Homo sapiens: one gene and its partner. The protein of the gene in region 1 interacts with the protein of each later gene in a biochemical or structural test. Each region holds a gene or a part of one and is shown in the gene's direction. Other genes may lie near its edges.

Region 1 (4,364 bases):
CCTGTAGGTGACTGTGGTGACCAAGCCAAAAGCCACCTGGGTTACTTTCCATACCTGACCTATAGGTCATTTGTCAGGTTTTGCTGTGTTAACGTTAGGTGTCACCAATAACAAGTAGAGGAATTTAAAAAATAATATTTTTGAATGAAATGGAGTTGATTATGCCTTTATTTTAGGAGAAAACCTGGTGGTCCTGTGATTTACTTGAGCATGGCGTGGTGCTGTGCTGGCACTCAATGTGGGGACAGTTACAGTGATACTAGGCTAGAATTTCCTATGTGCAGATCACAGAAAGGCAGGCTTCCCAGGTTGGTTTTTGGAGAGTGAAATCCAAGAATGGAGTTTTATTGTCAGGTGATAATCACGTTGTGTTTCTAGTGCTAGTTCTTTCTCTCCCCAGCCTTCCACAACAAAGCGGACCTTAGATATCCCTTGTGACCAGAAAGTGCTAAGGCTTAAAAACGCATGATTGAAAACTGTGGGTGAGTCTGTACTTTGAGATGAAGCTGTGTTAGCTGCCGCCTGTCTGAACACACTCGTGCTTCCTCCAGGGTGGCGCCAGGCTTGCTGGTTTCTGGGCCATGGTCTGTTCTTTTGTAGAATCTTTTCCTTCAAAGCAGAACCCTGAGCCCTTTGGTTGTAGCTCACACATGTTCCTGCAGGACCTGGAGGCAGCATGTGTGTCCTTCCATCCCAAGTCCAACGTGATGTTTGCCCCTTTCTTTCCAGGGCGCTACCGTTTTGGAATGATACCAACACTTACGTGGTTACGAACGTTAGATCTGTCCCATAGGAATGAGTTGGGATGGAGTGACTGAAAATGTCAAGCCAGTTCTCATGCAAGTGTGCCACCCTAGAAGCTTTATTAACTGGGTGCGATAACAGCTGGTGCGGTTGCAGTCTATTCTGTCACAAGTTCAGCATCCTCAGCCCAGCTGTCCTGTGCTATCCAGTTGTGCAGACAGATCACCAACAATTAGGAAAAGTTACGTTCTGCTAAAAACCCCATCTCCAGTTTATTCTTCCTTAGCATTTGGGGCTCCTTCCCCCTCAGGACGGGTCCCTGGGAGTGGACTATGTTGAATGACTCTTAGGCCTCCCCCTCAGTGCGGGTCCCTGGGAGTGGACTGTGTTGAATGACTCTTATGTGCTCTTACCATGAATGTTGTTGTTTTAAGGCCTTCTTTTTCTTTGTGATTCTTTTGTTCCCTAGCGTCGTCCCCCAGACTACAGTAATACTCAACAATGATCGGCAGAACGCCATTGTAGCCAAGATGGAAGACCCCTTGAGCAACAGGGCACCGGATTCCCTGGAAAATGTCATTAGCAAGTCAGTAGCACGGCACCAACCCCACCTTTCCCTGCCACTGTGCGGAGTCCCATGAGAATAAGTCAACGTCCCTAAGCCAGGGCACAGTCCAGCACACGCTTCATCTCTGTGGTCACAGGGTTGAGCCTGGCAGGCACCGCCCCAGCTCTCTGAGGTCGGGGAGGGCAGGCTGGGCGATGCTGAATGCTGAGTCCAGCCACACCAGGGGCAGCTGCCGCCGGGGACTTCTGTGTCTCGTGCTGGCCGGGGTTGTGGAGGGGGCTGGCTCTGTCTCCTCACAGCAGTCTGTGAAAGCGTTCATCCTCCCACCTAGCTCAGTGGTCCTCACGTCTGTCTGTGCAGAGCGTGTCAGGCAAACAGACGCCCTCTCCCACGGTTGCTAAGTGGTGCAGGCATGTTGAGTTTATGACTTTTTTCTTATACCTTTTTCTCTTGAGACATTTTGAATGGAACTTTGGTCAGAGGTGGGAGTGGACAGAAGACACCGTCCCCGCTCTGTGTGAGGGGAAGGCTGTGCAGTGGCCTCTGGCTGGCATCCAAGCCCTGCTGTCCCCAGGAGTGCCCCTGGGGCTGCGTGAACCCCTGAGGATGCTGTTGCTTTTTCTTTCCCATCTGTGTCTTCACAAAGTTCTATTTGCTTTTTCTCTCAGTCTCCTTTGTGGATTCCTCCTCCTCCAGCTTCGTCCCCTTTCTGTATTGTCTTAGCTCAGTTCTCCAGGGCCGCAGCTGTGGTCGCAAGGGTCTGATACGTGGGGTGAAGGGAGAGGAGTTGGTGATGGGCGGTGAGGAGGTGCCAGGGTCAGCTGTGCCTCAGGGGCTTTGCACTGAGGTCAGCCAGGCAGATGGCCAGTGTTGAGATCAGGTTCAGCGTGGACAGCGCTCTAGAGAATCCAGGCCAGAAAGTGCAGAGTGCAGCGCCCTCCTCTGGGTGCGGCCAGTGTTTTCAACACCCTTTTTTTTGACTTTGCATATAGAGAAATTGTGCTCCTTTCTCCTGCTGGTGCGTAGCAGTCCACGGTAGAGGATGTTGAAAGGGTCACTAAAAAAGGGAAGTAGTAAGTCTCTAAATCATCCTTTTTTTTGAGCACTTGTGGAGGTGGCCTCGCCCTGCTTTGCTAGCAGTGTTCTGTCCTTCCACATCAGCAGCCCTTGGGATGATGGCAGCTCCGATGGGATCTCAGTGGGTTTTTTAAGCCCCGTCAGGGTTTTTTGCCCGTGGGCGTACGTGGGAGTGCTGCTCGCATTGCGAGGGGGAGCCATCTCCAGCGAGCCCAGCAGCGTGGATCGAATTGACCCAGGCCTCTGGGCACAGTTTTCCTCATTTAGTCTTCCCTTTAACCTCGCCGGAAAAAAGACTCTTACCAGCATTTTATGGGATGACTACTGAACTCAGAAGGCAGCATGCTAGGCCTGAGTCCCAGTGAGTATGATTTTACTCCTTTTGTGATACAAACATTTTCTTTAAATGGTTAAGTTTTATTTTATACAGTTTCTTTCAGCCCCAGGCCATTTTCTCCCATGGAGTTTCTATTAATCTTGGTAGAGAGAGCAGTATGGGAAGGCTGTGTGATCCACTGGTCCACACAGAGTTAGATTTTGCGATAAGGAAAGCGCTGACCTTCGCGTGCTGCTTGCGGCTCTTACCACATCGGGCTGGTGTGTTTTTTTTCCCGTTTAGCGCTGTGCCTGGGCGTCGGCAGAACACCATTGTGGTGAAGGTGCCGGGCCAAGAAGACAGCCACCACGAGGACGGGGAGAGCGGCTCGGAGGCCAGCGACTCTGTGTCCAGCTGTGGGCAGGCGGGCAGTCAGAGCATCGGGAGCAACGTCACGCTCATCACCCTGAACTCGGAAGGTGCGTCCAGGGCGGCTTTCCTCGGCCAGAGCGCCAGTACAATTGTTTGTTTGTTTTGCCTTTTAGAAATTTTGTTGTTTTTTAAAGAAGTGATACAGTGGCCAGGCGCGGTGGCTCACGCCTGTAATCCCAGCACTTTGGGAGGCTGAGGCGGGCGGATCACCTGAAGTCGGGAGTTCGAGACCAGCCTGGCCAACATGGAGAAACCCTGTCTCTACTGAAAATACAAAATTAGCCGGGTGTGGTGGCAGGTGCCTGTAATCCCAGCTACTCGGGAGGCTGAGGCAGGAGAATCGCTTGAGCCTGGGAGGTGGAGGTTGCGGTGAACCGAGATCATGCCATTGCATCCAGCCTGGGCAATAGAGGAAACTCCATCTCAAAAAAAAAAAAAAAGTGATACAGTATAGGACAGGCTCAGTGGCTCACACCTGTAATTCCAGCACTTTGGGAGGCTGAGGCGGGTGGATCATGAGGTCAGGAGTTCAAGACCAGCCTGGCCAAAATGGTGAAACCCCATCTCTACTAAAACTACAAAAATTAGTTGGGCACGGTGACAGGTGCCTGTAATCCCAGCTACTTGGGAGGCTGAGGCGGGAGAATTGCTTGAACCTGGGTGGCAGAGGTTGCAGTGAGCTGAGATCGCACCACTGTACTCTAGCCTGGGCGTCAGAGACTCTGTCTCAAAAAAAAAAAAAAAAAAAAAAAGATAGTGATACAGTATAAACATGAAGATTAAAGGGAAAATAACTGTGATCCCACCATTCTGAGATCTCTAAACCTTTTGGGGTTTTTTGGTGCACATTTTATGATTTTATAACTCACTTCTTTCCCCTACACAGTAGAAATCTTTCCACGTTAGTGCAGATGGACAGAGTCATTTTTAGCCAGTTTTGCTTATTTCATCAGGTCTGGATGCTTTCCAGGGATGGCCCCCTCTAACCTTTCGTTATTGAAACTAGCATTGGCCTGCTGTGTTTTCATGTCTCTTGGATCAGTGTCTGGACGTGGGCTCTCAGAGGCAGGTTGCTGGGCTAGAGGACGCAGCTTCCACGGGTTCCATGGCACAGGATGCATTGCCCATTTCCCCCGAGATCTGGAAGGATGTGAAGCTGTTTGTCCTACTTGGACTCCTAGCGGGGGCCTCTCTCCTGCAGGGCTCTGAGGTGCCCTCCCGCCTGGC
Region 2 (3,932 bases), on another chromosome or scaffold:
CCAAACTGAGTTCCTTGAAGGCAGAATGTATCCTACACCTCTTATATCTCAGAGCCTATTACTGTGGGTGATGAGAAGTAGATGCTCAATAAATGGTGCAGTGAGAGCTGGAGGGCCTGAATAAATGGGGGTATTGGGGTGCTGATAAGCCAGGGTTTTGCATCATCCAATGACTGGCTGGAATGGAATATGAGGTCCTACTCCAGGGTCCAGCTGTAAGGGTGGTTGGCCGGTAGGTGGGGGCTTTTGGGACTTCTCCAGGCCTCACCTGCCTCTCTGGTCCCCCAGCGAGCCCCCGCTTCGGAGGAGGAGTTCCAGTTTCTGCGCTGCCAGCAATGCCAGGCGGAAGCCAAGTGCCCGAAGCTGCTGCCTTGTCTGCACACGCTGTGCTCAGGATGCCTGGAGGCGTCGGGCATGCAGTGCCCCATCTGCCAGGCGCCCTGGCCCCTAGGTGCAGACACACCCGCCCTGGATAACGTCTTTTTCGAGAGTCTGCAGCGGCGCCTGTCGGTGTACCGGCAGATTGTGGATGCGCAGGCTGTGTGCACCCGCTGCAAAGAGTCGGCCGACTTCTGGTGCTTTGAGTGCGAGCAGCTCCTCTGCGCCAAGTGCTTCGAGGCACACCAGTGGTTCCTCAAGCACGAGGCCCGGCCCCTAGCAGAGCTGCGCAACCAGTCGGTGCGTGAGTTCCTGGACGGCACCCGCAAGACCAACAACATCTTCTGCTCCAACCCCAACCACCGCACCCCTACGCTGACCAGGTGAGTAGGCCGGCACAGGGTGGGGTGGTGCATCCAAGTACCAGGTAGAGGGCGAGAGGAGCAAAGATCCAAAGAGTCACACAGCTGAGGACAAGGAGCTTCTGGGGCCTTGCAACTCTAAATGTGGTCTGCAGATATGCAGTGTCCGTGTTGATGACCACAATTTATGCTGCCAGTCCCCACGCAGGTGGATAGTAAGTTTCCAGTTTCCTCCTGTAATAAATAATGCTGCAGAATCATCTTTGCATCTTTATCCAGTAACTTCTTTAGGATAAATTTTTAGAAGTGCCACTGCTGGGTGTAGGGGGACGGGAATTCTACATTTGATACATGTTACCAAACTGCCCTTTAGAATTTAGTGGAATTTTCCGAGAGCACTGACACGGAATCTCAGTAAGGCTGGATTCTAGGATCAGAGACAAGTAGTTAGTTTCTGTCTGAAAAGTTGAAACCATTAACACCAGGCAGCGCTATCTGAGAATGTCTGTATGGGGAAAAAAAATCACATCCAGTTGTAATTATTTTTATTAAACAGATTTTAACTCAGTTTTTTAATAGGTAATACATTCGTACAGTTCACGAACAAAATTTGTAAAGAGGAGAGAGAGAGTGCAATCTTCTGTCCATGCCCAACTGCCTAATTCCCACCACTTCTCCCTCTTCCCATCCACAGGTAGCCATTGTTACTAGTTTTGAATGTTTCTTCTGAGAGTTTCTTTACGAATATATATGCAGGTAGGAGCAATCTTATCAGGTCCTATTTTCCCTCTTTTAGCCAAAAAGGTAGCATAACTATGTGAACTTTTCACCATTAGCAATAGATTGTTCATAGAAGGCGCTTCTTGGTTCTTAGAGATCCACTTGCAAAATGAAAGCATTTTTCGCTGGTTTTTGACAACTCAGAACTATATATGGCTAAACCACATATTTGCTGAACTACATATCTGCTAAACTGACTGTGATTTGTTTCCTGCTTTAGGATAAACTTCCCACACTATCAGAATAAGCTTTCCCCTCCGACTCCTCAACAGCTGGTATCACCACGTTTCTTAGCTTATTGTAAAGGTTGAGTGGCTTTCCACTTGTTTATTGGCCATTGTGTTTCTGCATTTGCGAGTGGCCTGTTTAGGTCCTTTGCCTGTTGTTGTTGTTGTTTCCGTTGAGGAATTAAGGGACTAATTAAAGAATTCAGGAACAAATTCCTCGAAAGAAAAAAATGTATGCATTTCTTTTGCTCTTACAATTTATGCAGTTTTAAAACTTACATATTTATTGGATTTTGATTGAAATTGCAATAAATTAGGAGAAATTGGCTTTATCTCTGGTTCTATCTTTTGGATTTAAAAAATTTTTTTTAATTTTTTTTTTTTTTTTTTGAGATGGAGTCTCGCTGTGTCACCCAGGCTGGAGTGCAGTGGCGCGATCTCGGCTCACTGCAACCTCCACCTCCCGGGTTCACGCCATTTTCCTGCCTCAGCCTCCCAAGTAGCTGCGATTACAGGTGCACATCATCATGCCTGGCTAATTTTTTGGCATTTTTAGTAGAGACAGGGTTTCACTATAATGGTCAGGCTGGTCTCCTGACCTCAGGTGATCCACCTGCCTCGGCCTCCCAAAGTTCTGGGATTACAGGCATGAGCCACCATGCCCAGCCTTATACTAATTTCTTAATGAATTTGTAAGCTTTCATGTTTTGAACGTGATAATGCAGCCATCCCACGGGATCCATGGGAGTCTGTTTCAAATTCATAGATGCTCAAGTCTCTGATATAAAATGGCATAGTATTTGTATATAACCTCTACACATCCTCCTGTATACTTTATTTTTTATTTTATTTTTATTTTTTGAGACGGGGTCTTGCTCTGTCGCCCAGGCTGGAGTGCAGTGCTGCACTCGTGGCTCACTGCAGCCTCAATCTCTTGGGTTCAAACAATCCTCCCACCTCAGCCACCAGATTATACAGGACTGCAGGTGTGCACCACCACACTCAGCTAATTTTTAAATTTTTTGTAGAGACAGGGTTTCACGACATTGCCCAGACTGGTCTTGAGAACTCTTGGGCTCAGGCAGCAACCCTCCCTAGGCCTCTCAAAGTGCTGGGATTACAGGTGTGAGCCACTGTACCCATCCCCTCCTGTATACTTTAAGTCATCTCTAGATTACTTATAATGCCTAATACAATGTAAATGCTATGTAAAGAGTTGTTTTACTATATTTTTGAATTTGTATATTTTTTTATTGTGGTACTTTTTTAATTGATTTTTTTTCGCCTGAATATTTTTGATCCAAGATTTGTTGAATCCACGGGTGCGTAACCTGCAGATACTGAGGGCCAACTGTACATATAAATTGTTTAGCGTAGTGCCTGGCACATATTAAATACTCAGTGAATGTTAAAATTCTATTATAATTTCTCTGCTCTAGAACAATTTGAAGAATATAAGAAATTTAGGCTTATAAAAGTTTTTTGAAAAACCATCTTGGAACTGGTGCCTTTTTTATAGTAGATTTTTGGGAACTTTTCCCATTTTTGCCATGGCATTAATCTGTTTTGGCTCTTGTGTCAGATTTTTGGAAGATTTTCCAGTTCATCCTGAGTTATCTTTCATTATTTAAAAATCTCCTATATGCCTGTAACTATACCCCCTTTTTTTATTTCTGATGTTGTATATTTGTGGTTTAGCAGTCTTTTCAAAGTACTGTACTTTTAGTCTTTCCTTAGATTGCTTACTGATTTTAATGTTTTCCTTCTTTCTGTTTGATCATTTTATTTTTGTCATTTTCTTCCTTCTAACTTTTGTCATTATTCATTTTCTAGCTTCTTGAACTTATAATTCATTTATTTGCAATCTTTATTGTTTAATAATAATAACTTTTTTTTTTTTGAGAATCTCCCTCTGTCACCCAGGCTGGAGTGCAGTGGTAGATCTTGGCTCACTGCAACCTGTGCCTCCTGGGTTCAAGTGATTCTCCTGCCTCAGCCTCCCCAGTAGCTGAGACTACAGGTGCCCACCACCATGCCTGGCTAATTTTTTTTATTTTTAGTAGAGACGGGGTTTCCCCATGTTGACCAGGCTGGTCTCGAACTCCTGGCCTCAAGTGATCCACCCGCCTCAGTCTCCCAAAGTTCTGGGATTACAGGCGTGAGCTACAATGCCCTGCCTAATAAT

What was found. Proteins that work in one complex are often made in the same cells at the same time.
Region 2: the proteins of BANP (region 1) and PML form a complex in vitro, tested with the Homo sapiens proteins (one study listed by BioGRID).

The regions. Positions count from the first base shown.
Region 1 is NC_000016.10:88,003,082-88,007,445, forward strand, and holds part of BANP (protein BANP), read left to right. Parts: intron 1-1,213; coding exon 1,214-1,330; intron 1,331-3,008; coding exon 3,009-3,184; intron 3,185-4,364. UniProt on the Homo sapiens protein: Controls V(D)J recombination during T-cell development by repressing T-cell receptor (TCR) beta enhancer function. Binds to scaffold/matrix attachment region beta (S/MARbeta), an ATC-rich DNA sequence located upstream of the TCR beta enhancer.
Region 2 is NC_000015.10:73,997,716-74,001,647, forward strand, and holds part of PML (protein PML), read left to right. Parts: intron 1-288; coding exon 289-761; intron 762-3,932.